Regions from separate parts of the Homo sapiens genome. Here region 2 is linked to region 1. Evidence: fine-mapped expression QTL. A gene starts in region 1. The other region holds a variant in brackets. All regions are shown on one strand. Distances are from middle to middle.

Region 1 (2,798 bases):
CGCCCGCCACCACGCCCGGAGAATTTTTTTTTTTTTTTTGTATTTTTAGTGGAGACGGGGTTTCACCGCGTTAGCCAGGATGGTCTCGATCTCCTGACCTCGGCCTCCCAAAGTGCTGGGATTACAGGCGTGAGCCACCGCGCCCGGCCTAAAGTGGTTTTTGTAATTCATTTTTCTTTTTTTTTTTTTTGAGACAGTCTTGCTCTGTTGGCCAGGCTGAAGTGCAGTGGAGCAATCTTGGCTCACTGCAACCTCCGTCTCCCGGGCTCAAGCAATTCTCCTGCCTCATCCTCCCGAGTAGCTGGGATTACAGGCATGTGCCACCACGCCCGGCTAATTTTTGTATTTTTAGTAGAGACGTGGTTTCACCATGTTGGGTCTTGAACTCCTGATCTCAGGTGATCCACCCGCCTCGCCTCCCAAAGTGTTGGGATTACAGGCGTGAGCCACCGCGCCCGGCTAGTATTTGTAATTCTTATCTATCACATTAAGGCTCTTGTCCGGTGTGGTTGTGTTCCGGGGCGGTCCCCGACCCCGCCCCTCACAAGCCCCGCCCCCCGCACCGGGCCCCGCCTCCTGAACTCCGAAGCTCCCGACCCCGCCTCCGCAGGGTCCAGGCTTCGCCCCTGGTGACAGGTGGTGCTGGTGTAGTCAAGGAGGAGGGCTCGCTTTTTTTGGTTCAGGTTGTCATGGTGGCGCCCAAGCCCGCCTTGCCGGCCTTGTCTTTTCCGGTCTCAGTCCGGCGTGGCAGCGGAGGCAGGCACCGTTAGGTCTTCCAGTCCCTCTCTGTCATGGCGACGCCCAGCCTCTTCTTCCGGCCACAGCCTGTCATGGCGGCACCCGAAGTAGTCCCTGCCGGGGCCAGCCTGTTCTGTTGCCCTGGCTCTTCCTAGTCCAGGCTGCCATGGCGGCGCTCAGGGCTTACCGGAAGTAAAACTTCGGAAGTGAGGCGTTCCTCTGCCCGGAAGTGAGCGCGGCGCTAGGAAAGATGGCGGCAGCGGCGGCGGTGGGCAACGCGGTGCCCTGCGGGGCCCGGCCTTGCGGGGTCCGGCCTGACGGGCAGCCCAAGCCCGGGCCGCAGCCGCGCGCGCTCCTTGCCGCCGGGCCGGCGCTCATAGCGAACGGTGACGAGCTGGTGGCTGCCGTGTGGCCGTACCGGCGGTTGGCGCTGTTGCGGCGCCTCACGGTGCTGCCATTCGCCGGGCTGCTTTACCCGGCCTGGTTGGGTGCCGCAGCCGCTGGCTGCTGGGGCTGGGGCAGCAGTTGGGTGCAGATCCCCGAAGCTGCGCTGCTCGTGCTTGCCACCATCTGCCTCGCGCACGCGCTCACTGTCCTCTCGGGGCATTGGTCTGTGCACGCGCATTGCGCGCTCACCTGCACCCCGGTAAGTGTGTACACGCGAGCCCGACCCCCAGCACGGTCGAGCCTCGCCGTGGGTCCCAGCTGCGGCCTTCCTGTCGGTCACCATCGCGACCTGGGCCACTCATCTGCCTGGCCTGGATTCCCAGGGGCACCCTCTACACTTTGGCGCAGGCTTAATCATGACCCCACTGCTGACTTGCTGTGCATGCCTGGTGCGGGTTATTTCCTTTTTCTGAAGTCCTCCCTGTTATGGTCATTTAGATTCAGTGATGTAATACTTGTAAAAGGCTTAGCGCAGGGCCCAGCATACGTCGCCCAGGTCAGGTAGGAGTTGTTTATACTAGTTCCCATATTAGCGACTACTCTTGTTCTGGAAACGGCCCTACCTTCCATCTCATCTGTCTCCTACCTTGGTTTTCAAAGTGTAAGGCGAGATCACTGGGATAGGTTTCCCCCATCTATGAAGCTTAGTTGGTTCTTAGACTGAACCAAGTCTTGCTGTCCAGTGCTTAGTGGTCTTCCATACTGTGATGGAAAGGAGCATGAAATGCAGTTAATTACAGTGTTGAAGAGAGGCAGAGGTGTTTATGAGCGAGTCATTTACATGATGTCTTTCCGCAAAATGAGGGTGGTGATACTGAGTTCTGTCGGGGATACAACAGCAAGCAAGGTCGCGCTCCTGACCCACAGTTTAGAGTTCTGAGTGACCAAGTGTCGTCGGAGGAGTTGGTGACTGTGAGCTTCCCTGGGCCTGAAGCAGTGACTGTGTCGTCTCTCTCTGGGCCTGCCTCAGGTGACACCAGCAGGTTTGGAGCCATGGACACTGAGGTATATCAGGAAGCTTCCCCTCTGATTCCAGGAGTGTGTTTGCCTCAAGAAGAGGAAAAGGGAACAGCATCAAGGGCTACAGAAAGACAGAAGCCCCCCACCCTGGCTGGCTCTGAATGTGGGTAGAATCCTCATTCTCCTCTCCTGAGAGACAACCTGTTCTGTCCTTCAAAAAGACTTATCTATCCCAGGGGAGGAGCTCAACGTGGTAGCTTTGAGGTAGTACAATGAAAGACACCAATGAGGGACAAAATAAAGGAGGGGTTAAGGGGACTGTGGCACCGCTCAAACTTCAGCTGCCTTTTGACCTGCAGCTAAGCAGCTTAGCTCTTAACTTCCTCTCCAGGGATGGAGAAGTGGGAGGAGCTGAACAGCCATCAGCCAGGAGAGGTGGATCTGGGTTTGATTCAGATCTCAGAAAGGGCCGCTTCTGCTCTCTGAGTTTCAGTTTCCCCCTTCTGTAAACTGAGAACCGTAACTAACAACTACTGGGTGCCATCTTGAGAAGCGGAGATGATATCTGCAGAGTGCCCGCCCTGGGGCCATCACAGCGTATAGCCTCTTGTACCTTTCTTCCGTGACGTCACGTTTGTAGTTATGTGATTGTT
Region 2 (2,798 bases), 20 kb after region 1:
TTCCCATAATACATAACAGCATGCCTTTCTCTCGGGTGGTGTCTGAGACTTGAGGAATATGATCTGCATCATTACAAGTATTGACTCTGTCCGGTGGCTCAAGCCTGTAATCCCAGCACTTTGGGAGGCCAAGGCGGGCCCATCACAAGGTCAGGAGATCGAGACCATCCTGGCTAACACAGTGAAACCCCATCTCTACTAAAAATACAAAAAATTAGCCAGGCATGGTGGCGAGTGCCTGTAGTCCCAGTTACTCGGGAGGCTGAGGCAGGAGAATGGCGTGAACCCAGGAGGTGGAGCTTGCAGTGAGCCGAGATAACGCCACTGCACTCCAGCCTGGGCAACAGAGCGAGACTCCAACTCAAAAGAAAAACAAACAAGTACTGACTCTGTCATGCTCTTTGGGGGCCTGCGCTGCTCTACCATCTCATGTCACAGTCAGGGAGCTCTGGCTGAGCATCAGCCAGGATGTGACCTGGAAACCTGGCTTGGCTCTTAGGTTGATAGTGTTATTCCTTTCAATGGACTCACTCATCACAACTCAAGAACTGCAGAGTAGGCAGCACGGAGCCAGTCAGAGAATCCTTGCCTCCTTAACAGCCAAAGCCTTTGGACACAAAGTTATAAACATACTTTAAAGTCTATTTCCAGCCCCAAAATTCCACTGTGCTGGGGGTGGGAGCATTTTTATAACAGGCGGCTTGTGGCAACCCCAGAGCTGGTGCTTTTGGACAAACCTCCACTCCCTACCTAAAAGGGCTGCTCCCTGGTGTGCTGTAATTGGGGCCTTGAGCCTGATCCAGCTTTGAGGGTCACGGAAGGGGCGTCCCCCAGGCCAGGGGTTCTCCAGCCCGAGTATTAGAATTTTGGTTGGAATCGGACAGAATATCAGGCCTCCACCAGGGGGCGCCATGGCTCCAGCGAGGCCCAGGTGGTTTCAGGGCTCCGAGAGACAACCTGGGCAAGGGGATCACCAGGGTCGCGGGTTGTGGGAGCTCCTGGGAGAGGCCCCCCGGGACAGGTGGACTCTGCAACCATTCAGGGAGGAGGGGGCTGGGGCTCCGTGGGATTTGGGGTAGCACAAAGATCTGAGAGGGAACCTATGGCCCAGATGAAGTCTTAGGATGCCCAGGTCAGGGGCACTGCAGCCTCGAGTGGTCGCTCAGGGGGCCCTGGCCCGACCCAGTTTCAAGCGGCTCAGGTAGAGAAGGGCACTATCAAGGCTTCCGGGCTACGGGGGCGTGGTCTGATGCGGGGGCGTGGCCTCCGCTGGGCAGGGCGACGCGGAACCGAGGCGGCGGCGGCGGCTGCGGCGGCAGGAAATCGGGGCTCGGCCCCGCCGGCGCGCGACCCCATCCCCATCCCGGTCCCTGCAGAGCGATCCCCGGGCCCAGATATGGACGCAGCAGAGCCGGGTAGGGGGTCGGGGATCCGGGAGGGGCCTCCCCCGACCATCCCCTGCTTCCTACATTGAGGGCACACACTTGTCCCGCTCCGTCCTGAGAGCCAGGAGAGGAGTTCCTGAATGGGAAGGACCCAGGGATCCTCCATTGTGGGGAGCCCTGTGCCCGGATGGGTTCAGGAC[C/G]CCAGCCCTTCACTCCCCCTCCCCCTTTTGATCCCTCACCCCAGACGCCTGGGGGAGGGGGCCCAGGAAGGGGAAGTGACTGCTTCTGCTTCTGATTTTTGTGATGGGGGCAGGGTGCCACGACTGCTGAGGGAGAGGGCAACGCGGTAGGATCCCCACAGGGCCCCTCTGTAGCCCTGGGGAGTCGGCAGTGCTGGTCTAGGCCCCTTAGGAGAGGGGGCAGGGGGGCAGCAGTAGAAATGTGGCGGGGTCCGACTTGGTGTTTCCGGCCGTCTTTGTGTCTGTGTTGTGTATGTGGAGTGTCATTCGGTCTTTATGTCCCTCACGGCTTCAGTCTCTCCATGTGTGTTTCTGCCCCAGGCTCTGCCTGGCTGTCCCTTGTGTATTTCCATCTGTCTAGCCCGTGGTTCCATTGTCAGACCGGCTTTCTTCTCGGGACAGCCTGGTTGCATCTGGGGCATCTGTTTTGTTGGTTTGCTTCTGGGTGCAGGCAGACCCAGGGAGTGGGTGTCTCTGTTCCCCGAGCAGCTGTCTCTGGTCTCTGGTGGTGTGTGAGTCCATCTGCCTGCCTCGAGTTGGCCCCAACCAAGCCCCCCCCAGCCCTCTCTTTCTCTCTCTCACTCTTCCCTTTCTCTTCCACCCCCTCCAAATGAGACTGGTTGAGGTGCCGTGGGTGGAGGGAGGCAGTGGTTAGCCCATGTATTACACTCCCCTCCCCTAGGACTCCCCCCAGGTCCTGAGGGCAGGAAGAGGTACAGTGACATCTTCCGGAGCCTGGACAACCTCGAAATCTCACTGGGGAACGTGTGAGTCTGAGCCTGGATCACCCCCAAATCCTGCCAAGATGCCCCAAGCCCCTAACCATTTAGGTGCCTTGCAGTCCCATTTGGAACCTGTAACATCTGGACCTACATACCTAATAACCAGAGAAGTCTAGGATGGGACCCTCCAAAATGCCTCGGTATCCTAAAAGTGTCCCCCTAAATAGACTGGAAATCCCCAAAGTGGTCCTAGAACCCCTACATATCCTTGTAACCCCTTAAAATATTTGCGATCCCTATAATCCCACTCTATGAACCTCAAAGTTATCTGGGGCCCTTCAGATGCTTTTTCAAGTCCTATTTAAAAAAAACTCACCTGATTCCCCCAAAACACCATTCTTCAGACCTCCCAGACACAAGAGATGCCACAGAGGTGATGTTTGCCACAAACA

Evidence for each region.
Region 2: its variant is fine-mapped to the expression of ATP13A1 in whole blood (TOPMed, PIP above 0.99).

Annotation. Positions count from the first base shown.
Region 1 is chr19:19,661,857-19,664,654 of GRCh38, reverse strand. ATP13A1 (ATPase 13A1) reads left to right here and starts at 979. Exons shown (of 26, transcript NM_020410.3): 1 at 979-1,384. The coding sequence starts at 989. RefSeq lists silencers at 493-542, 983-1,242 and enhancers at 643-932, 1,276-1,377, 649-1,631, 1,763-1,812, 2,513-2,798 and 1 more.
Region 2 is chr19:19,642,128-19,644,925 of GRCh38, reverse strand. GMIP (GEM interacting protein) reads left to right here and starts at 1,269. Exons shown (of 21, transcript NM_016573.4): 1 at 1,269-1,415; 2 at 2,307-2,391. The coding sequence starts at 1,397. RefSeq lists a silencer at 1,176-1,425 and enhancers at 2,056-2,215, 1,437-2,392. The variant C/G (reference allele first, on the strand shown) is at 1,586.